Linked DNA regions of Homo sapiens. The protein of the gene in region 2 binds, or shares a complex with, the protein of the main gene of each other region. Each region holds a gene or a part of one and is shown on either strand. Other genes may lie near its edges. A codon is read from its position in the direction of its gene.

What was found.
Region 1: the proteins of CCNC (region 2) and MED13 are in contact, whole or in part, in a cryo-EM structure (PDB 8TQC), measured with the Homo sapiens proteins. Residues at the interface, in NP_005181.2 of Homo sapiens: Gln7 (codon at 1,427), Gln13, Trp14, Leu16, Gln19, Lys23, Gln26, Lys27, Arg75, Tyr76, Glu144, Leu145, Asp147, Cys148, Ser221; in NP_005112.2 of Homo sapiens: Tyr1342, Ser1630, His1631, Val1732, Lys1733, Thr1734, Thr1736, Phe1738, Gly1739, Pro1740, Gly1741, Ala1743, Arg1897, Met1898, Ile1901, Asp1905.
Region 3: the proteins of CCNC (region 2) and CDK8 are in contact, whole or in part, in a crystal structure (PDB 5CEI), measured with the Homo sapiens proteins. Residues at the interface, in NP_005181.2 of Homo sapiens: Met1 (codon at 1,445), Ala2 (codon at 1,442), Gly3 (codon at 1,439), Asn4 (codon at 1,436), Ser8 (codon at 1,424), Ser9 (codon at 1,421), His10 (codon at 1,418), Gln13, Phe72, Tyr76, Lys79, Ser80, Ile81, Asp82, Leu85, Leu93, Lys96, Val97, Glu98, Glu99, Phe100, Gly101, Val102, Tyr130, His134, Leu136, Glu137, Glu139, Phe140, Tyr141; in NP_001251.1 of Homo sapiens: Met1 (codon at 2,688), Asp2 (codon at 2,691), Tyr3 (codon at 2,694), Asp4 (codon at 2,697), Phe5 (codon at 2,700), Lys6 (codon at 2,703), Leu9 (codon at 2,712), Arg13 (codon at 2,724), Gly58, Ile59, Ser60, Met61, Cys64, Arg65, Ile67, Ala68, Leu69, Arg71, Glu72, Leu73, Val84, Leu86, Ser87, His88, Arg91, Lys92, Val93, Asn145, Trp146, Val147.

What each region holds. Positions count from the first base shown.
Region 1 is NC_000017.11:61,946,679-61,950,427, forward strand, and holds part of MED13 (mediator of RNA polymerase II transcription subunit 13), read right to left. Parts: intron 340-3,749; coding exon 239-339; intron 1-238. UniProt on the Homo sapiens protein: Component of the Mediator complex, a coactivator involved in the regulated transcription of nearly all RNA polymerase II-dependent genes.
Region 2 is NC_000006.12:99,567,083-99,570,831, forward strand, and holds the start of CCNC (cyclin-C), read right to left. Parts: upstream 1,579-3,749; 5' UTR 1,446-1,578; coding exon 1,414-1,445; exon of another isoform or gene 484-1,413; intron 1-483. UniProt on the Homo sapiens protein: Component of the Mediator complex, a coactivator involved in regulated gene transcription of nearly all RNA polymerase II-dependent genes.
Region 3 is NC_000013.11:26,251,955-26,255,703, forward strand, and holds the start of CDK8 (cyclin-dependent kinase 8), read left to right. Parts: upstream 1-2,174; 5' UTR 2,175-2,687; coding exon 2,688-2,815; intron 2,816-3,749.

The DNA.
Region 1 (3,749 bases), on a different chromosome or scaffold from region 2:
TAAGACTCAAAGTCACCTTAAAAAAGAGTGTAACAGAGAGTCCTTGAGGGGAAAGAAGCAATTTCCATAAAAATTATTCTCAAAAGTAGATTACTCAAGTTAGAATAGCAGTGTTTATCTAGAGATCCACTGGTACACAACTGTAAATTCTTGCCAAAAATGAGAAAAATATATAAGAATCAACATTATATTCTTTTAAAGTTGCAGTGACAAACTGTTAATGGTAAAAGAGTTGTACCTGAGGACATCTGAAGTCTGATTTGAGTCAAGTGGGTGGGAGTGTTTACTGTGAAGCAGCTCGTCAGATTGCACTGAAGGCACGTGGAGGTGCAAAGAGGCCTAAGAAGGTAACAGGTAATCAATCAGTCAGCCAAACAGAAAATAATCTGCTATTTAGTTTTACCTTATTCTCCCAATATATCTTATAAAATGATGAAATACATTTTAGTCCTATGTTATGAATGAAAGCCACTATAAAAATGCTTGTTCTCTTTTAACTAATTCATTATAGAAATGTTTTTTTTTTTTTTTTTAAGTAGGGGCAGGTTCTTGTTCTGTTGACCAGGCTGGTCTTGAACTCCTGGCCTCAAACAATCCTCCTGCCTTGGCCTCCCAAAGTGCTGGGATTACACGCATGAGCCACTGTGCCTAGCCAGAAGTGATTTTTAAGTGCAAAACTTACTTTGAATCTATTTCCTTTTCTTTAGCTTTATTGTTTTTGAGACCATACAATAATCCTTAGAAAAAGAATTTCTAATTACCTGCTAAGTCTAATTTGCCTAGATGTGCAAAGTAAATGTTTAAGGAGGCACTAAATTGAGTAGTTAAACCTGAGTAGTCTGTCCTTAAGATATATGACACCCTTTATGACTACGCAGACATACCTACGTCTAGCACTGAAAAAAGTAACAGGAATAAGCATAAGCAAATAGTTTGGTTACAGCACAATAAACCTTAAACAAGCTATCTTCGGTTGAACTGAGAACACTCTAAGTAATACAGTGCACAGATGCCTGCTTTGCCCACTCAATTTCATAATAGAGGGTAGGTAAAAACTGGCACACTCATTTAGATATGGCAATGAATAGTGGGAGAAAGGAATAAACTACTCCACACTCCAATTAAATGAGTCATTTTTTTTATAAGTCAATATAGTATTAAAAAGCTATGATAAAACAATGGTGATGTTCACTGCAGTAACTCTTGGTAGATCTCATTCTGTACACTGTATAAGGTACTATTTTATATTTAGGTGTTCTCTCCTCTGCAACTGCAATACATATAGAAACTCATGTAGTACATTTAGGAATATAACCAAAAATAGCTATGTTTCAACTGTCTACAAACTCTTGATTTATGGAGTTATAAGCAAGTCTCACACTGCAAATCACTACAAATTTTTAAAATGTAATTAGTACCAGTACTCTATTCCTATGATAAAAAGGGATCTAGCTAACAACCCATTATATTTCCAAGCAAAGAGAAACAAACCAGGTGGCTTTACTGCCTACAGTATAAAACTAAAATAAGATATATGAAAAAAAAAAGTGAACAAAAAGTATGGTAAATTATGCCTTAGGTGATAGTTCATAACCAGAAGTCCTAATCTTGTTACAATGTATCTAAGGGTGAATGCCCGCTTTATACTATCCTTTCTGCAAATAAATACTGAGTAGGAAAAGCTCTAGATAGTCCCTTGGACTTTTTGTAAAGTTGTGTTTCCTGAACACATCCCCTGAAACACTAAGATAATAAACTATTAACAGGTGTTAAATAATCCTTTCCTTGTGTATTAATAAGTTTGGGAAATGCTAGGTAAACTATCTTATTTACCTCTGTTTTTCAGACTTTAGTGTGCATACATGTATTATGACTAGAAAAGAGGACAGATAGCATGTGTAGCACCCTCCCAAAGGACCAAAGAATCCTTTGTTTTGTGGAGACACCAAAGACTACTAGTATATAGAAAATCCCTGACCTCAGGTGATCTGCCTGCCTCAGCCTCCCAAAGTGCTGGGTTTACAGGTGTGAGCCACTGCACCCGGCAGCAAGTATTTAAATTAGCATGACTTGTGGATTAAAAACAGTCAACTTCCGGTGGTTTTACATAAGAATAAGTGAGTCACGGCCGGGCGCGGTGGCTCACGCCTGTAATCCCAGCACTTTGGGAGGCCGAGGCGGGCGGATCACGAGGTCAGGAGATCGAGACCATCCCGGCTAAAACGGTGAAACCCCATCTCTACTAAAAAAATACAAAAAATTAGCCGGGCGTAGTGGCGGGCGCCTGTAGTCCCAGCTACTTGGGAGGCTGAGGCAGGAGAATGGCGTGAACCCGGGAGGCGGAGCTTGCAGTGAGCCGAGATCCCGCCACTGCACTCCAGCCTGGGCGACAGAGCGAGACTCCGTCTCAAAAAAAAAAAAAGAATAAGTGAGTCACATCTAAATTTGTTATTCTGGAACAATATTAGCAGCAGTAATATAATTCTGTATAGGGCTTTTATATCTCATTTTGTGACTTATCTCCACTTCATGTTACATTGCTTACTAACAAATTCGGTTTTGTTTTTTTGAGAGAGGGTCTCCTGTCACCTAGCTGGAGTGCAGTGGCATGATCATGGCTCACTGCAGCCTCAACCTCTTGTGCTCATGCGATCCTCCCTCCTGCCCCAGCTTTTCATGTTATTAGGACTATAGGCACATGCCACCATGCCTAATATTAAAAACTTTTTAGAGAGACAAAATTTCACTATGTTGTCCAGGCTGATCACAAACTCCTGGCCTCAAGTGATCCTCCTGCCTCGACCACCCAAAGTGCTGGGATTATAGGGGTGAATCGCTGTGCCCAGCCTGAGTTTGTTGTAATAAATCACGATGAATCTGAGAGTCTCATTACTGTATTTAAAAACCACTCAGTTTTTTTTTAACACAGCAATCTACACACAGCTAGAAAAACTTTTTTAAGTAGTAAATGAAACTAAAAATCAAGTATTACAAAGATTATAAATCTTTTTTTTGTTTGTTTGTTTTGAGATGGAATCTCACTCTGTCACCCAGGCTGGAGTGCAGTGGCGCGATCTCGGCTCACTGCAACCTTTACCTGCCGGGTTCAAGTGATTCTCCTGCCTCAGTCTCCCAAATAGCTAATTTGCACGTGCCACCACGCCTGGCTAATTTTTTTGTAGTTTTAGTAGAAACGGGGTCTCACCATGTTGGCCAGACTGGTCTCAAACTGCTGACTTTGTGATCCACCTGCCTCAGCCTCCCAAAGTGCTGGGATTACAGGCATGAGCCACTGCGCCCAGCCCAAGATTATAAATCTTTTATTCCCCAAAATAATGCAGCATAACAGCAGTGCAGTATGATGTAATTCAAAGAATAACATAATAATCATTAAAAGACCCAGGTTTCAGTCTTGAGTCTATTACCAATTTATGACTTTAAACAGGTGAGTTTTTCTGAACTTAAATATGCTCACCTAGAAAATGAGAAGGTTAGACAGAGGTAATATAAAGTTTCTCTCAGCTCTAAATTTCCATATATGCAGTTGAAACAGATTGAGCATCTCCAATTTGAAAAAATCCAAAAATGGAAACAATTCTGGTCCCAAGCATTTCGAATAAGGGATACTCAATCTACACTAACAACAAGGGCCCTAGGAGTTTGACTTAGGAATAAAGTTCTAAAAATATAAATTTAAAAACTAGTTGTTTTTTTTTTTTTTGAGACAGAGTCTCAGATATTGTCACCCA
Region 2 (3,749 bases):
AACTTTATAATAATTTTATATTTGAAAAGTGAAAACATATTTTTAGAATGCTATGAATAAATGAAAGCATAATGAGAACACTATTGAAAATAAGGCAGGATCTTTTTTTTTTAAGTTGAAAAACTGAAAAATCAACAGTCAGCTACTTGTCAATTCTCTCAGCTTCTTTCAGAGTTTATCAGAATATCTCTTCTCCACTACCTAAACTTTTTTTTTCAGGAGCTCTAACTCCAATACCTAAACTTTCGATACTTTAATTTTGCCCAAGCAATATTTCAGTGTGTGAAAACAATGCAACATATATACACACACATATATATATACATACACACACACACATATATATACACACACACACATATGATCAGTGGTAAAGCTTCTTTAACATGTCATCTCCACAGAATCACTTTATAGCAAGAGGAAAACCTGCTTTTCCTTAAATAGGTTACTGAGTTCATTGTTTCTTTTTTTCTCTTTGCAAAGGGCTAAAAAATGAACATCAGGAACAGATCCTATTCACAGAATCGAAATTTAAATTACTTACTAATGCTTTCTTAGCATAAAAAATTATACCAAGATACCTTGTCAAATTCTGTTCATCTTTCAACTATACAGTGGAAAGCCTACTCAAATGTTCAATTTACCCCATAACGCACCTTCCTGCCTGCTTAAACAAATGTATTTAGGGATAAATGTTTTTAATATTATTCTAGCTCTCACATGGTCACTGACAGAAACAAGAACTTATTCATGAAAAAGGTTAAAGAAACAGGTAAACAAAGTCACTGGAAAAATAGGCCTTTAAAACAAAATATAAAGCACAGGCTAATGAAATGGATAAATTTAGAGGGCACCTGCCCTATACCTTATCAATATAAAACTCCATCTAGACATAAAGTACGCGCAAGAAGCGGTTAGTAGGCAGAAACAAGCCAGACTCTCTCCTCTCCTCATAATATTAAATCCACTCAAGATATACAGTGAATGACAAAAGACCACGACGCCGATCACCCGAAGAAACCCCAGGTAAAAGCACGCCACAACTGTCCTGAACAGGTAGCCTCACAGTCTTGAGCTGAGTCACACTTCCCGTACCTGTGCCCACTCTATCCGACCCCCCGCGGCCTAGCTAAACCAAGAATCCGAAATTAAACTCCGAAACGTTCCTTCCCGGGAGACGAAACTCTCTCCCACCCCTCCCCCTCACAGATCCTTCCCTCCCCGAAACTGGGGCTGGGGGCGGGGAGGGGAGTCGCCTCAGAAAAGCGCATCTTGATTCTGACCGCTGCGGTCTCCCGTGAGGACCCCGGCACTCGGAACTGAGCTGGGATCCAGGCCCAGGGGAGTCACAGGCCCCGTCCTCACAGCTCCCCCAAAAACCGGCCCCAGGTGAGAAGACGGAAGATCGCTTACTAGTGGGAGCTCTGCCAAAAGTTCCCTGCCATGGAACACAGCTTGCCCTGATAAAAAAGCACCAGCCGGCGGAGCGGCCCGCGGAGCGACCATAGACCCAGCCCGTCCGGTAACCGCGCTCCTCGATCAAATCAGCTCGGCTCGACTCCGCTCCGCGGCGGCGACGGCGAAAGGAAGAGGATGGCCCCCTAGTCTCCTTCACGCCGGCCGACAACACTCAACTGTGCAAACCCGTTCCTATCGACAAAAGTTCCGGCCCGCGGTAGCGGAGGGAGCCGGAGGGGAGGTGCTGACCCTTGGAGGTGCTGAGATTGAAGAGAACTAGTGTTCACGAGAGCTCGCGGCGGTTGGAAGGCTCTCGCGAGAGCGTCTTGAGAATTCTGGCCGGGGGCCCAAGCCGCTCGGTCTCCTGTCTTCAGCACGGGAGTTGCTGAGTGGGTCTAACCTAGGCGAAGTGGCTCAGATACGGGGTTCTGTTATTACCTCTTCCAGGACTTCAAAAACAGAACAATGTGGCATTGTAATAAAGTACAAGGTTTTGTGACTTATTTTTCCTGTGATTGGAAAGAGAAATAAATGAAGATGACTTTGTTCTCAGGGATCAAGTGTTCCTTTTTTTTTTTTACTTTATTTATTTATTTATTTTGAGACGGAGTCTTGCTCTGTCTCCAGGCTGGAGTGCAGTGGCACGATCCCGGCTCACTGCAAGCTCCGCCTCCAGGAGTTCAAGCGATTCTCCTGCCTCAGCCTCCCGAGTAGCTGGGACTGCAGGCGCGCACCACCATGCCCAGCTAATTTTTGTATTTTTAGTAGAGATAGGGTTTCACCATGTTGGCCAGGATAGTCTCAAACTCCTGACCTCGTGATCCGCCCTCCTCAACCTCCCAAAGTGCTGGGATTACAGGCGTAAGCCACCGCACCCTGCCTGTTTTTTACTTTTGAGACGGAGTCTGGGTCTGTCACCCAGGATGGAATGCAGTGGCACAATCTCGGCTCACAGCAACCTCTGCCTTTCCAGTTCAAATGATTCTGCTGCCTCAGCCTCCCAGGTAGCTGGGATTACAGGGATTACAGGCGCGTGCCACCACGTCCATCTAATCTTTGTATTTTTAGTGGAGAGGGGATTTCGCTAGGCTGGTCTGGAACTCCTAACCTCAGGTGATCCGTCAGCCTCAGCCTCCCAAAATGCTGGGATTAACAGGCGTGGGCTACCAGGCCCGGCCTGGATCAGGCGGTTTTTTTTTTTTTTTTTTTTTGAGACGGAGTCTTGCTCTGTCGCCCAGGTTGGAGTGCAGTGGCGCTATCTAGGCTCATTGCAACCTCTGCCTCCCAGGTTCAAGCGATTCTCCTGCCTCAGCCTCCCAAGTAGCTGGGACTACAGGCTCACACCACCACGCCCAGCTAATTTTTGTATTTTTAGTAGAGACAGGGTTTCACCATGTTGGCCAGGATGGTCTCCATTTCCTGACCTCGTGATCCGCCCACCTCGGCCTCCCAAAGTGCTGGGATTACAGGCGTGAGCAACCGCGCCCGGCCGCGATCTTTTTTTTTTTTTTTTTTGAGACGGAGTCTCGCTCTGTCGCCCAGGCTGGAGTGCAGTGGCGAGATCTCGGCCGCGATCTTAATGGAGTTATTTTGGAGTGATAAAGTGCAAACTTACAGAGCAGCGGAATCAACAGTTTTGCAGAACATCTAAAAATATTCATGCATATATGTATGCACATGTATGTACATGTATGCACCTAATAGAAACATACTGCAAAAAAAGCCATAATTTAATTTTACAAGACGAAATATTTTGTATTTTCCATTTCATTTTCATTGTAGCAATGCATTTATTGTAAAACTTATAATTATTTTTCTAAATAATTGGACACTCCAGAAACTTGTTTATAGACAGTCAGCATCTGAGGCAACTTAAGACAGTATTTTTCACATTGTAGGTGGAGACCAATTAGGGTGTGGTAAAATTAAGTATAATCATTTTCCTAAATAGAACAGAAAATACTAGGTAAATCAGAAATAGCAAGGATATTATATTTAAATTTGGTTCAGTTATATATGTGTGTATATACATACACAAACACACATATACACACACAGTCAAGATGTGAAATGCATTTGTTTGTATGTGAGAATTAGTCTGCATCAGGTGTGGTGGCTCACGCCTGTAATCCCAGCACTTTGGGATGCCGAAATGGGCGGATCACTTGAGGTCAGGAGTTTGAGACCAGCCTAGCCAACATGGTGAAACCCTGTCTCTACTAAAAATACAAAAATTAGCGGAGTGTGGTGGCGTGCACCCGTAGTCCCAGCTACTCGGGAGGCTGCAGCAC
Region 3 (3,749 bases), on a different chromosome or scaffold from region 2:
CCCAGAGTGAAGCCAGCCAAAACAGTGTATAAAAGTACATTTTTAAAAGTCTGAGGCCAGGTATGTGGCTCATGCCTGTAATCCCAGCACTTTGGGAGGTTGAGACAGGAGGATCACTTGAACCCAGGAGTTAAAGACCAGCCTGGGCAACAGAGCGAGACTCCGTCTCTCAAAAAAAAAAAAAAAAAAAAAACTTAGCTGGGTGTAGTGGCACATGCCTGTAGTCCCAGCTACTCAGGAGGCTGGGGAGGAGAATTGTTTGAGCCCAGGAGTTCAAGGTTGTAGTAAGCTGTGATCGCATCACTGCACTCCAGCCTGGGTGACATAGCCAGACCCTGTCTCAAAATAAAAACACAAAAAGACAAACAAAAAAGGTCTGAGACCTTCAGTGTTCCAGAATAGTGTGTATAATTGGTACAGGAGGTGGGGAAGGGGGACCCGATACAGTGTAGGGGCAAGCTGAGTCCCATGCCTCTTCACAACTTTTCCTCCAGTGTGGTAGTTTGATTTCTCAAGATCCATGAGTAAATATGTGCACAAAAGACACATCCCTCAAAAAATACAAAATACATTGTCTAAGGAAGAATCTTTTAAATCCATATTCAGAAAATGATGTAATTCTTTAAGGATGCAAATGAGCAGTTCTGCTAGAGAGTTACCCAATTTTCATCACTGAATGGAAACAAATAATATGCCATTAATGAAAGCCTACATTTGTTTTGTGCTTTGCACTTTGCAAAGAAAAAATTCTAGGCTCCAAGAACACATTAGTAAATGACAATGCAGGATTCAAACCCAGTATAGTAAAATACTCAATACTTATATAGTATGCTAGGTAAAAACAATTTAATTTTACACAGTGGTGAAGTCACTAATTTTCTCCAAGGAAAATTATATAAGAGAAAGCCCTTTGGAGGCTTTTTCACAAGATGATATCATCATCATCATCATTGGTATATGGATCTTTTTGAGATAAACATGTTTATTCATTCATTAATTTAACAAGTGTTTACTGTGCATCATTATCAAGGCATGACACTAGGTTTTACAGAAGATGCAAATATGACTTCCTATAACAACTTAGGATCTAGCAAGGTAGAGGAAATAAAAGATGAAAGGAATTTGATAAATATCACAGGAAAGGTGGGAAAAAAAGTGTTAAAAAGTTCACATTAAAACTGCAAAGTTCATATTCCCTTTGGGAAGTGGGGAGCTTTAGTGGAAATGGTAACAATTGGAAAACCAAAAATTAAAAATAGACAAGGGGGGTAAGATAAAATGATAGATTAGTATCAAGATACCAGGACTCCTGAAGCAGGACATATTGCTACCTTAAGATTATTAACAAACTAGTTCCCATGGATTTAGATCCTTTCTGTAATCATAGCTAGAAACTGGTGTTCTTATAGGTAGTATCGCAGAAGGCTGTACTGTACTCAATACTTCCTGTATATGGATAGGAAAGGTTTGGATGGTCATCTGTCACAAGAGTAACAATGTTTAGGAGTAGCTTGGACACTGGTCATTGATTCACTTTTATTGGTGCTTGTAATGTCAGTATGTTGACATCATTGTGCAGCCCTTATCAGATTGTGAACACCAAGAGTACCCCAACTGCTGGCCCGCGAGCTGTTTACAAATATCATACCGGCTTTTATCGATGATAGTGGCCTTTAAAATCTGGAGTTCAGAGTGGCACAAAATGTGTTTCTAATGCAAACGACTCTCCTTCCCACGTGCACCTCTTTGATCAAGTTTGTGGCTGAAATCAGACTCTAGTTAGATCGCTGTAAAAATAAAAATAAATTTTCCCCAAATGATTGAAACGAATTTCACCCTAGACTACGAGTCCCATCATGCAACGCTCCCATATTCCCACCGTGTGGGGCGGAGTCGTAGAAGGGGCGGCAGCGGCGGCGGCCTGTGCATTCTGGGTATTGTAGTCTGGGGCCCGGCCACCGCTGGGGCTGGTTCCACGTGGTGCATTTGGCGGCAGCTTTGGGCAGTGGCTCCCCTGCTCCCTCCACACGGTCCTCAGGGTGCCAGCGCCAGCAGGGGCGGCCAGCCACCGCGGGAGCGGGCTAGAGTGTGGCCCGGAGGCAGCCCGAGGCTTCGCGACGTTTTTGCGACAGCCGCGGCCGTGTTCCGCGAGTGCCCTCCCTCCTCCTCTCTTTGAGGAGGTACCGGCTGTTGTGCGGCTCTGCCCTTCTGTTTGAGTGTATGGGAGAGTGAGTGAGTGAGTGAGTGTGAGCGTGTGTGTGAGAGCGTGAGGCGTGAGTGCGCGTGTGAGAGGACGAGAGCCCGCCTGGCCGCCCCGCCGCTCCCGCCGCAGCAGGAGCAGAACGCGCGGCCGGAGAGAGCGGCGGAGCCGGCGCCCAGGGAGCCCGCGGGGACAAGGGCAGAGACACCGCTCCCCACCCCCAGCCCTCGTCCCTCGGCTCTCCTTCGCCGGGGGATCCTCCCCGTTCCTCCACCCCCGGCCGGCCTCTGCCCCGCCGTCCCCCTGGATGTCCCTGGCGCTTTCGCGGGGCCTCCTCCTGCTCTTGCCGCATCAGTCGGGCTGGTGCTGCGGCCGGCGGGCGTAGAGCGGGCGGGTTCCCGGGGGCTGCGGCTGCCCGTGCTTCCCCGGTCCCCACCCCTGCCCCCCGGCCCCCCGACCCAGCTCTCCGGCCTCAGAGGCTGTGACAATGGACTATGACTTTAAAGTGAAGCTGAGCAGCGAGCGGGAGCGGGTCGAGGACCTGTTTGAATACGAGGGCTGCAAAGTTGGCCGAGGCACTTATGGTCACGTCTACAAAGCCAAGAGGAAAGATGGGTGAGTGTGTGTGTCTGGGCCGGTGTCCGCGCTGGGCGGCGCTCCCGCAGGCCGAGGCAGGTAGCCCGGAGGGAGAGCGGGCCGCCGGGGTGCCGGGCTCTGACTTCCTCGACGCCGGCCTCTGGCTCCGCCAGCCAGGTTTGGGGAGGAAGTGGTGTACGAGGGATCCAAACCCACGAGAAATCCTGCGTGCCGCGTCTGTGTTCTGCTCTGGTGGTAAGAGGCAAGATGAGCCTCTGCACCGTGGGCTGTATACTTTTCAAGGATTTCAAAGCTGATTCATGAAAAAATTCGTTCTAAAACGCCGGGTTAAATGTTTTTTGTTTTTTTTTTTCCTTGGTCGATTTATTATGGTAACCTTCTGGGGATTTCCTCACCCGCCTCTGGAGTGTCATCCATCGGTCTAGAAGGAAGGCTGTGATCCTTTCCCCCACCAGTTTGTGATCGATTTTTTATCAAATTTGTATTTTATTTGAGGAAAGGAAGGCAGCGAGTGAATGTGGTTCTGGAGAGAGTTCCCCATAGTGATCATCTGCAACATAAATGTTGCAATTGCTATTTAGATATTATTAGCTGTGAATTTTTACATAGAACAATGGGGGTTTGGTGCAGGGTGGGTGGTGGGGAAGAAGGCAAGTGACATAGGGACTATCTCGTTCAGGCGGTTTCCCCCAAATTTAGCGGCTGGCAGTGAACTTTAAATAATCCCTTTGCTTTAAATATTCTTCCCTAGTAACAACTTAATTAAACCTATGACTGGTAATGCTTCCAATTTAGTTTCTTAACAGGCAAGTGAATTGTTCATTTTTTCTCTTTGTCAGTAGATGAATGTCTTGTAATATTGACAAAAGAGAAGGCAATTCTTAGTTGGGGGGAAAATATATTTTATTAACTCCATGTTTTCTTGTAAAATGGATGTTGTCTCTGTTGCCTT